3 linked regions of the Homo sapiens genome follow. The main gene of each other region encodes a partner of the protein of the gene in region 3 in a complex. Each region holds a gene or a part of one and is shown on either strand. Other genes may lie near its edges. The genes, in order: EIF3J, EIF3K and EIF3I.

Region 1 (3,651 bases), on a different chromosome or scaffold from region 3:
TGACTTTTTTTTGTGAGACGGAGTTTCATTCTTGTTGCCCAGGCTGGAGTGCAATGGCGCGATCTCGGCTCACCACAGCCTCTGTCTCCTGGGTTCAAGCAATTTTCCTGCCTCAGCCTCCCGAGTAGCTGGGATTACAGGCATGTGCCACCACACCCAGCTAATTTTGTATTTTTAGTAGAGACGGGGTTTCTCCATGTTGGTCAGGCTGGTCTTGCATTCCCGACCTCAGGTGATCTGCCTGCCTTGGCCTCCCAAAGTGTTGGGATTACAGGCGTAAGCCGGCCTTGATTCTTTTTTTTTTTTTTTTTTTTTTTTGAGACGAAGTCTCGCCGCACTGTCACCTGGGCTGGAGTGCAGTGGCACAATCTTGGCTCACTGCAACCTCCCACTCCTGGGTTCAAGTGATTCTCCTGCCTCAGCCCCCAAGTAGTTGGGATTATAGGTGTCTGCCACCACGCCCAGCTAATTTTTTGTATTTTTAGTAGAGACAGGGTTTCACTATGTTGGCCAGGCTGGTCTCAAACTCCTGACCTCGTGATCCGCCCACCTCAGCCTCCCAAAGTGCTGGGATTACAGGCATGAGCCACGCACCCGGCCTGACTCCTTTTTAATAGTGGGCTTTAGAATTATATAGACTTAATTCATTAACCAGGCTTATGTTGTATGGAATACTACTTGAAATAAATGAGCTATTGGCCAGAGTATAGGATGCTTTTTACATTTGGGGGGAAGTAAGAACTATAAAGTTCTCTCAGTTTTTATTTATTAATAACTGAATCACTTTCAGAGAGGCTATTGATTTCAGCTAGGTTGTCCTAACTGCTAATGGAGAAGCTTTCTTATGAAGTTAGATAAGTTGATATGAGGGTTCATATGGAAAAACAAAACATGCAAGAAAGGCCAAGAAAACACTAAAAAATCTGAAAACCTACAAGGAAGGACTAGCTCTAGCTGACATTAAAGTAAAGCCTCTGTAATTAAAACAGTACCGGCTGGGCATGGTGGCTCACGCCTGCAATCCCAGCACTTTGGGAGGCTGAGGATCACCTGATGTCAGGAGTTCGAGACCAGCCTGGTCAACATGGAGAAACCCCGTCTCTACTAAAAATACAAAAATTAGCCCGGCATGATGGTGGACACCTGTAATCCCAGCTACTCCAGAGGCTGAGGCTGGAGAGTCACTTGAACCCAGGAGGCAGAGGTTGCAGTAAGCTGAGATCGCGCCATTGCACTCCAACCTGGGCGACAAGAGTGAAACTCCGTCTCAAAAAACAAGACCAAAAAAACCCAGTATGGTACCGTTATATGGAGAGACAGTAGACTAGTGGGATAGGATCAAAAGCCCAGAAATAGACCAAGTACATATGAAAATTTAGTATATGGTAAGTCACAAGGTATCTTAAAATGTTTTTTGCTGCAATAGAATGCAATAGACTGGGTATTGTATAAACAACAGATTTATTTCTTATGGTTATGGAGGCTGAGAAGTCCAGTATCAAGGTGCTGGCATCTGGCGAGGGCCTTCTTGCTCTATTATCCTGGGGCAGAAGGGCAAAAGAGCACAAAGGATTGCAGGAGGTGTCAGAACTCATCCTTTTATCAGATATCTACTCCTAATATAAAGGTATTAATAATTCATTCATGAGGGCTTTGCCTCTAATCATTTCTAAAAGACCCTACTTCTCAACACTGTTGGATTGGAGATTTCATCACATGAACTTTGGAGGACACATTCAAACCATAGCCCAGGGAAAAAAACCATTATTTATTAAAGGGTTTTTAATAAATGATGCTGTGACAACTGGGTAGCCATTTGGGAAAAAAATGAAATTAGATCCATGTTGCATATCATAACACAAGAAAAAAACTCCAAATCAGAGATCTAAATAAAAAAAAAAATGAAACCCTATACATTCTAGAAGAAATTGTGGGTGAATTCTTAGGTGTAAGAAAAGACTTTCTGGCTGGGCGAAGTGGCTCATGCCTGTACTCCCAGCACTTCGGGAGGCTGAGGTGGGCGGATCACCTGAGGTTGGGAGTTCGAGATCAGCCTGACCAACATGGACAAACCCCATCTCTACTAAAAATACAAAGTTAGCCAGGCATGGTGGTGCATGTCTAATCCCAGCTGCTTGGGAGGCTGAGGCAGGAGAATTGCTTGAACCCGGGAGGTGGAGGTTGTAGTGAGCCTAGATCATGCCATTGCACTCCAGCTTGGGCAACCAGAGCAAAACTCCAACTCAAAAACAAAACAAAACAAAACAAAACAACAAAAAAACAAGAAAAGACTTTCTAATTGACTTGAAATCCATCCAGAGGCAATGAAAGAAAAGACTGGGGCTAGGCACGGTGGCTCACGCCTGTAATTCCAGCACTTCGGGAAGCCGAGGCGGGCGGATCATGAGATCAGGAGTTCGAGACCAGTGTGACCAACATGGTGAAATCCTGTCTATACTAAAAATACAAAATTAGCCAGGCATGGTGGCATGTGCTGGTAATCCCAGCTACTCGGGAGGCTGAGGCAGGAGAATCACTTGAACCTGGGAGGCAGAGGTTGCAGTGAGCTGAGATCGTCCCTGTATTCCAGCCTGGGCGACAGAACGAGACTCCGTCTCAAAAAAAAAAAAAAAAAAAAAAAAAACCATTTCTACTAAAAATAAATGAGCCAGGCATGGTGGTGTATGCCTGTAATCCTAGTTACTGGGGAGGCTGAGGCAGGAGAATCGCTTGAACCTAGGAGGTGGAGGTTGCAGTGAGCTGAGATCGTGACATTGCACTCCAGCCTGGGCAAGAAACTCCGTCTCAAAAAAAAAAAAAAAGTCTGGTAAATTTTATTGCATAAATTTGTTGGGATGCATAGCAATTCATGGGGAAACAATAGAGGCATTTCCATCAAGAAAGCAAGGATGCCCATTACTTCTGCTGCTGTTCAACATTGCACTAGAGGTTTAGCTGGCCCAATTAGGTAAATCACTTGTGAGGGCCTAAGGATTGGTAGAGAAGTAAAGCTATCTTTTGTTTGCAGATAAGGTAGCATACCTGTAAAACCCTAGAGAAGCAACGATAAATCTAACTTAAGTGATAAATGAATTCAGTAAGGTAGCAGGATATTAACATATAAAAAAGCCAATAGTCATTTTTGTTTATTTGTTTTGAGACAGGGTTTTTATGATAGTGAGTTGCCTAGGATAGAGTGCAGTGGCACTATCATAGCTCACTGCAGCCTTAACCTCCTGGGCTCAAGTGATCTTCCCACCTTAGCCTCTCAAGTAGCTGAGACTACAGGCACATGCCACGTTGCCCAGTTAATTTTTTAATTTTTTTTTTTTTTGCAGAGACTGGGTCTTGCCGATAGGTTTTTATACACAAATAATAGCCACCTAGAGGACATAATAGGAAAACACCCTATTTATAATAGCAACATACAAGATGAAATACTTAGGAATAAATCTAAAGAGAAATGCGCAGAGCCTCTAATAGGGAAATCACTTTAAAACACTTCTGAAAGGTACAAAAATGTACTTGATCAAATGGAAAGACAGTTCTTATTCTTGGTTAGGGCAGCTCAGCATTATAAGATGTCAATTCCCCCTACATTAATTTATAAATTTAATGCAGTACAAAAAAATACCAACAAACATTTCTCTG
Region 2 (3,651 bases), on a different chromosome or scaffold from region 3:
TTTTTTTGAGACAGGGTCTCACCTTCTTGCCCAGGCTAGAGTGCCTTGGCGTGATCTCATGATCTCAACTCAGTGCATCCTTTGCCTCCCAGGTTCATGTAATCCTCCTGCCTCGGCCTCCTAAGTAGCTGTACGTATCGGGGGGCCTGCCCCGATAATCACGTAGGTTCTTTTCTATATTCCTAAGCATTGGCTGGCTTGAGAAATAGAAGGACAGAGTACAAAAGAGAGAAATTTTAAAGCTGGGCGTCCGGGGGAGACATCACACATTGGTAGGATCCGTGATGCCTCACAAGCCACAAAAACCAGCAAGTTTTTATTAGGGATTTTCAAAAGGGGAGGGAGTGTGCGAATAGGTGTGGGCGACAGACATCAAGTACTTAACAGGGTAATAGAATATCACAAGGCAAGTGGAGGCAGGGCGAGATCACAGGACCACAGGATCAAAGCGAAATTAAAATTGCTAATGAAGTTTTGGGCACCACTGTCATTGATAACATCTTATCAGGAGACAGGGTTTTGAGATCAACCGGTCTGACCAAAATTTATTAGGCGGGAATTTCCTCTTCCTAATAAGCCTGGGAACGCTATGGGAGACGAGTTTATTTCACCTCTGCAATCTCGACTATAAGAGACAGGTACGCCCCGGGGGGCCCGTTCAGAGACCTACCCCTAGGTGCGCATTCTCTTTCTCAGGGACGTTCCATGCTGAGAAAAAGAATTCAGCGATATTTCTCCCATTTGCTTTTGAAAGAAGAGAAATATGGCTCTGTTCTGCCCGGCTCACCGGCAGTCAGAGTTTAAGGTTCTCTCTCTCATTCCCGGAACAATTGCTGTTATCCTGTTCTTTTTCCAGGGTGCCCACATTTCATATTGCTCAAACACACATGTTGTGCAATTTTTGTAGTTAACGCAATTATTACAGGGTCCTGGAACGATATACATCCTCCTCAACTGACAGGATTAAGAGATTAAAGTAAAGACAGGCATAGGAAATCACAAGGGTATTGATTGGGGAAGTGATAAGTGTCCATGAAATCTTTACAATTTATGTTTAGAGATTGCAGTAAAGACAGGCATAAGAAATTACAAAAGTATTAATTTGGGGAACTAATAAATGTCCATAAAATCTTCACAATCCACGTTCTTCTGTCATGGCTTCAGCCGGTCCCTCCGTTTGGGGTCCCTGACTTCCCGCAACAGGTACGCACCACCATACCCAGCTAATTTTTGTATTTTTAGTAGAGACAGGGTTTTGCCATGTTAGCCAGGCTGGTCTCGAACTCCTGACCTCAGGTGATCCACCCGCCTTGGCCTCCCAAAGTGCTGGGATTACAGGCGTGAGCCACTGCACCCAGCCTAATTTTTGTATTTTTAGTAGAGACGGGGCTTTGTCATGTTGGCCAGGCTGGTCTCGAACTCCTGATCTCAGGTGATCCGCCCATCTCGGCCTCCCAAAGTGCTGGGATTACAGGCTTGAGCCACCCACCTACCCACCCCCACCGCCACCTTCTGTTGTCCTCTTTTGCAAGGGAGGAAACCGTCAGCCCCTCAGTTTCCTTTCTCTGCTCCTCAGCCTTTCAGTGCCTCTTAATCTCTCTCTTCTCTGCTCCTCGTGTCATAAATAAGCAGTCCAAGGTCACTCAGCAGGGAAGTTTAAACCGAGGCAGTCTGGCTCTGGTTCCTTAGCCACTACTCCAGACCACTGCTGCTGTTCTCATTTGTTTATAAATCACTTAGCAGTGTCTGCCCCATTGGGTAGTTGTGAGCATTAACTGTCCCTGTTCACAGAGGAGAAAGGTAGGCTCAGGGAGGTGAAGGTTACACAGCTGGGAAGCACTGGGACTGGGATTGGAACCCAGGCATGTCCAATTCCCAAACTCCAGAATAAAGCAGCTGCCTGGCACCTGGTGAGGATTGGGGACTTGGAGGTGCCACTGTGGCCACGTCTCTTGTTCTTTTTCTTAGGTACCAGTTCAACCCAGCCTTCTTTCAGACCACGGTCACCGCCCAGATCCTGCTGAAGGCCCTCACCAACTTGCCGCACACAGACTTCACCCTGTGCAAGTGCATGATCGACCAGGCACATGTATCCTTCCAGCACTGGGGCCGGGGGGTGTGTGGGAAGGGGTCAGAGTCAAGGTGCATGAATTCCCAGGGAGATGGTCTGTGGGTGTATCCACAAACAACAAGTGCCTGCTCTGGTCCAGCGTGGCAAGGTGCTGGACAGTGCTGGGACACTGGTGACTGAGACAGTCCTGGGCCCTGTCTTCACAAAGTTGTCGCAGTCCAGTGAAGAGTCAGTGATAGACTGGAGTGGTCAGGGTTGGGTTACAAGAGTCACAGCAGCCGGGCACAATGACTCAGGCCTCTAATCCCGGCACTTTGAGAGGTCAAGGTGGGTGGATCACCTGAGGTCAGGAGTTCGAGACCAGCCTGGCCAACATGGCGAAACCCCATCTCTATTAAAATACAAAAAATTAGCCAGGCACAGTGGCACACACCTATAGTCCCAGTTACTCAGGAGGCTGAGGCAGGAGGATCACTTGAAGCTGGGAGATGGAGGTTGCAGTGAGCCGAGATTGCGCCACTGCACTCCACCCTGGGTGACACAGTGAGACTCTGTCTCAAAAAAAAAAAGAAGAGCCAGAGTAGGCACCTGACCATTTGGGTGGGGGAATATGTGGACATGAACACAGCCATCTGTATTTACATTCTATAGAACAATGTCTGGAAAGGTGGAAAGGTACCCAAGAATTGGAAATGACTGTTACCTCCCAGGAAGGATGGCTGTGAGACAGGGAAGGGAAGACCTATTTTGCCACTGTTCACTCTTCTGTATTTTTAACTAGAAACTATAAACCAGGGCCTCCTGGAGGAGGGAACATCTAAAACATAACGAGTTAGGTGGAGGGGTAGGCAAAGGTGATCCAGGCAGAGAGGACACTCATGGGCTAAAGGAAGCAGAGCTCGGTGCTGTCTTTCAGGAATGGTAGAGGAAGCCTGACATAGGAATGATTTAAGGTGGGTTTTTTTTTGTTGTTGTTTTATTTTATTTATTTTATTTTTTTTTTGAGACGGAGCCTTGCTCTGTCACCCAGTCTGGAGTGCAGTGGCGTGATCTCGGCTTCCTGCAACTTCCACCTCCCAGGTTCAAGCTATTCTGTCTCAGCCTCCTGAGCAGCTGGGACCACAGGTGCATGCATGCTACCACGCCCAGCTAATTTTTGTATTTTTAGTAGAGACGGGGTTTTGCTATGTTGGCCAGGCTGCTCTCGAACTCCTGACCTCAGGTGATCCACCCGCCTCAGCCTCCCAAAGTGATAGGATTACAGATGTGAGCCACCGTGCCCAGCCTATAGGTTTTATTTTATTAGTAATAATAGTAGGGTTTTTTTGTTAATATTTTCTTTTTTTTTGAGATGGAGTCTTGCTCTGTCATCCAGGCTGGCGTGCAAAGGCGTGATCTTGGCTCACTACAACCTCCTCCTCCCGGGTTCAAGTGATTCTCCTGCCTCAGCCTCCCAAGTAGCTGGGACTATAGGCACGTGCCACCACACCCAGCTGCTTTTCGTATGTTTAGTAGAGATGGGGTTTCGCTATGTTGGCCAGGCTGGTGTCGAACTCCTGACCTCAGGTGATCCACCCGCC
Region 3 (3,500 bases):
CCAAGGTGAGCCTGGGCAGCGGTCTGGCAGGGCTGCTCCCTCCCTCCGGCTGCACAGCTCACCCTGCCCGACTTCCCCCAGGAAAGCTCTTTACAGATTTCCCCCCTGCCTTCTCTCTCCAGCTTTTTGACTCCACAACTCTTGAACATCAGAAGACTTTCCGGACAGAACGTCCTGTCAACTCAGCTGCCCTCTCCCCCAACTATGACCATGTAAGAGAACCCCACCTGCCTTCCTGCTGAAGCCTCAGGAAGCTTCCAAGTTCTAGATGCTTGTCCAGAAGTTGGGCTACAACATTGTGGGGGAAATGATGTCAGGCAGAGAGGAGATGCCCAGAGGAGTGACAAAGCTGGAAGGATTGAATAGCCCCAGGGCAGCCAGCAGGAGGTGGCAGAAGTGTCTGATCATCCCCTACCTTTGGTATCCTCCCATTGAGCCGTGTGAGATGTTAAAAATGTATATGGCAGCAGAAAAACACAAAATGGACTTGGTGTCCATTGGTCCCATCTAGAGTTTCTTCTTCCATTCAGGTGGTCCTGGGCGGTGGTCAGGAAGCCATGGATGTAACCACAACCTCCACCAGGATTGGCAAGTTTGAGGCCAGGTAAAGAAGAAGAGAGCTCTTCCAAATTAAAATCTCATGTGGTGTACCTTTTTTGTTTGTTTTTGTTTTTGAGATGGAGTCTCGCTCTGTCGCCTAGGCTGGAGCGCAGTGGCGTGATCTCTGCTCACTGCAAGCTCTGCCTCCCGGGTTGACGCCATTCTCCTGCCTCAGCGGCCCAGGCGCCCACCACCATGCCTGGCTAATTTTCTTTTTGTATTTTTAGTAGAGACGGGGTTTCACCGTGTTAGCAAGGATGGTCTCGATCTCCTGACCTCGTGATACGCCCGCCTCAGCCTCCCAAAGTGCTGGGATTACAGGCATGAGCCACCGTGCCCAGCCTTTTTTTTTTTTTTTTTTTTTGACACGGAGTCTTGCTCTGTCACCCAGGCTGGAGTGCAATGGCGCGATCTCTGCTCACTGCAACCTCTGCTTCCCGGGTTCAAGCAATTATCCTGCCTCTGCCTCCTGGGTGGCTGGGATTACAGGCACCCATGACCACGCCTGGCTAATTTTTGTATTTTTAGTAGAGACAGGATTTCACCATGTTTGCCAGGCTGGTCTTGAACTCCTGGCCTTAAGTAATCCGCCCACCTTGGCCTTCCAGAGTGCTGGGATTACAGGCATGAGCCACTGTGCCCAGCCTTCATTATATTTCTCTATGTCTAAATTTCCTCTACTGTATAATGAGACAATGACAATATACTTAACATAAAATTATGCAGATTAAATTATTCAGTTAATATTTATTAAGCTCTTTAAGCACTGCCCAGCACATAGTAGGCACTCTATAAGTATTAGTTATGTATTCAGGCAGACATCTGGGTCCAGTCTTCCCCATATAATAAAAAAGTTAAAAAAGTAAGAGACAGGGTCTCACTATGTTGCCCAGGCTGGCCTCGAACTCCTGGGCTCAAGCAATCCTCTGTCCTCAGCCTCCCAAAGTGCTGGGATTACAGGCGTGAACCATGGCACGCAGCCACCAATTTCCATCTTATTTTGTTCACATTCACTTCTTATCTCAATTTTTCTGCTTTATTATTATTATTTTTTGAGACAGGGTCTCACTCTGTTGCCCAGGCTGGAGTGCAGTGGCACCATCTCTGCTCACCGCAACCTCCTGGGCTCAAGCGATCCTTCTACCTCAGCTTCTGAGTAGCTGGGATTACAGGTACATGGCCACCGTCCCTGGCTGCTTTTTGTATTTTTAGTAGAGATGTTGGCCAGGCTGGTCTCAAACTCCTGGCCTCAAGTGATCCACCCGCCTCGGCCTCCCAAAGTGTTGGGATTACAGGCGTGAGCCACTGCGCCTCGGCTTCTGCTTTATTTTTTGTGATACAATTTGCATTTGAGGCCAGGTGTGGTGGCTCATGCCTGTAATCCCAGCACATTGGGAGGCTAAGGAAGGCGGCTTGAGGCCAGGAGTTCGTAACCAGCCTGGCCAACATGGTGAAACCCCATCTCTACTAAAAATACAAAAATTAGCCAGGCATCTGTAATCCCAACCACTCAGGAGGCTGAGGCAGGAGAATTGCTTGAACCCAGGAGGGGGAGGTTCCAGTGAACCGAGATTGCGCCACTGTACTCCACCCTGGGTGACAGAGTAAGACTCCATCTCAAAATAAATAAATAATAATAACAATTTGCATTTGGGGAGTGCCACCTCCAAAGTGTTTTGGAAGAAGATAGAAAGTGAATTAATTGTGTCCCTTTTCCTCCAGGTTCTTCCATTTGGCCTTTGAAGAAGAGTTTGGAAGAGTCAAGGGTCACTTTGGACCTATCAACAGTGTTGCCTTCCATCCTGATGGCAAGAGGTAGGGTACCAGTGAAGCAGCTGACCTAAGCCTGGGTTGGGTCTCTGCCTTTCCCAGAGTAAGCACCTGACTGGTGCCTGGCTATCTTTTTCCAGCTACAGCAGCGGCGGCGAAGATGGTTACGTCCGTATCCATTACTTCGACCCACAGTACTTCGAATTTGAGTTTGAGGCTTAAGAAGCTGGATCTCCTGCCGGGCGTGGTGGCTCATGCCTGTAATCCCACCACTTTTTTTTTAAGGCAGGCGGATCACCTGAGGTCAGGAGTTTAAGACCAGCCTGACCAACATGGAGAAACCTCGTCTCTACTAAAAATACAAAAATTAGCCAGGCATGGTGGCACACGCCTATAGTCCCAGCTACTCAGGAGGCTGAGGCAGGAGAATCACTTGAACCCAGGAGGCAGAGGTTGCAGTGAGCTGAGATCACGTCATTGCACTCCATCCTGAGCCACAAGAGCAAAACTCCGTCTCAAAAAAAAAAAAGAAGAAGGTGGATCTCCAACCAGGCCAGAGAAGATTCTCACAGAAGGTTTTGAACTCTAAGAAATAAATTGGTTTGGTAATAAATGGCTTCTGGTCAGATATTTTGTGGTGTCTGTTTCATCATTTTTCCTTTTCACTGACACCCCAGCAAGCTGATGCTGATCATGGAGACTTTTATTATTGAGACCTCCCTATACTTTGGACACTTCAAACTTAAGACCCTCAGTACTTTTGGCTAACCTGGGTTGCAGGCACCCTCATCCAAGGTGTAAAGGTCCTAAGGGGCCTGCAGAGGTTTCAGGAACATCTCAGCTGCTATCCAAGGAGCCAGTGCTTAGAATAGGGGCTCGGCTGAAGCAGTTGGCTGAGAGGCTTCTGTCTTCTCCCTTCCTGTCACTATTTGCCACACTCTTCCCCCATGCAGCTTCTGCAGGCTCAGGTGAGCAGGTCCAGCGCAGAAACAGGCCTGAGGAGGAGGAAGACAGGTCAGGACGCTGAGCAGAGGGGTAATACCCAGGGGAGAAGGTGTGGAGCTCACCTTGCCACAGCCGCAGGCTCTGGGGCTCCACAGATGGCCAAGGGATTGAGGAGGTAGAGTGGG

The links.
Region 1: EIF3I (region 3) and EIF3J share a complex: the UniProt entries of both Homo sapiens proteins name them as parts of the eukaryotic translation initiation factor 3 (eIF-3) complex.
Region 2: EIF3I (region 3) and EIF3K share a complex: the UniProt entries of both Homo sapiens proteins name them as parts of the eukaryotic translation initiation factor 3 (eIF-3) complex.

What each region holds. Positions count from the first base shown.
Region 1 is NC_000015.10:44,547,147-44,550,797, forward strand, and holds part of EIF3J (eukaryotic translation initiation factor 3 subunit J), read left to right. Parts: intron 1-3,651. UniProt on the Homo sapiens protein: Component of the eukaryotic translation initiation factor 3 (eIF-3) complex, which is required for several steps in the initiation of protein synthesis.
Region 2 is NC_000019.10:38,622,109-38,625,759, forward strand, and holds part of EIF3K (eukaryotic translation initiation factor 3 subunit K), read left to right. Parts: intron 1-1,968; coding exon 1,969-2,089; intron 2,090-3,651. UniProt on the Homo sapiens protein: Component of the eukaryotic translation initiation factor 3 (eIF-3) complex, which is required for several steps in the initiation of protein synthesis.
Region 3 is NC_000001.11:32,228,605-32,232,104, forward strand, and holds the end of EIF3I (eukaryotic translation initiation factor 3 subunit I), read left to right. Parts: coding exon 1-5; intron 6-122; coding exon 123-212; intron 213-530; coding exon 531-604; intron 605-2,322; coding exon 2,323-2,415; intron 2,416-2,510; coding exon 2,511-2,592; 3' UTR 2,593-3,000; downstream 3,001-3,500. UniProt on the Homo sapiens protein: Component of the eukaryotic translation initiation factor 3 (eIF-3) complex, which is required for several steps in the initiation of protein synthesis.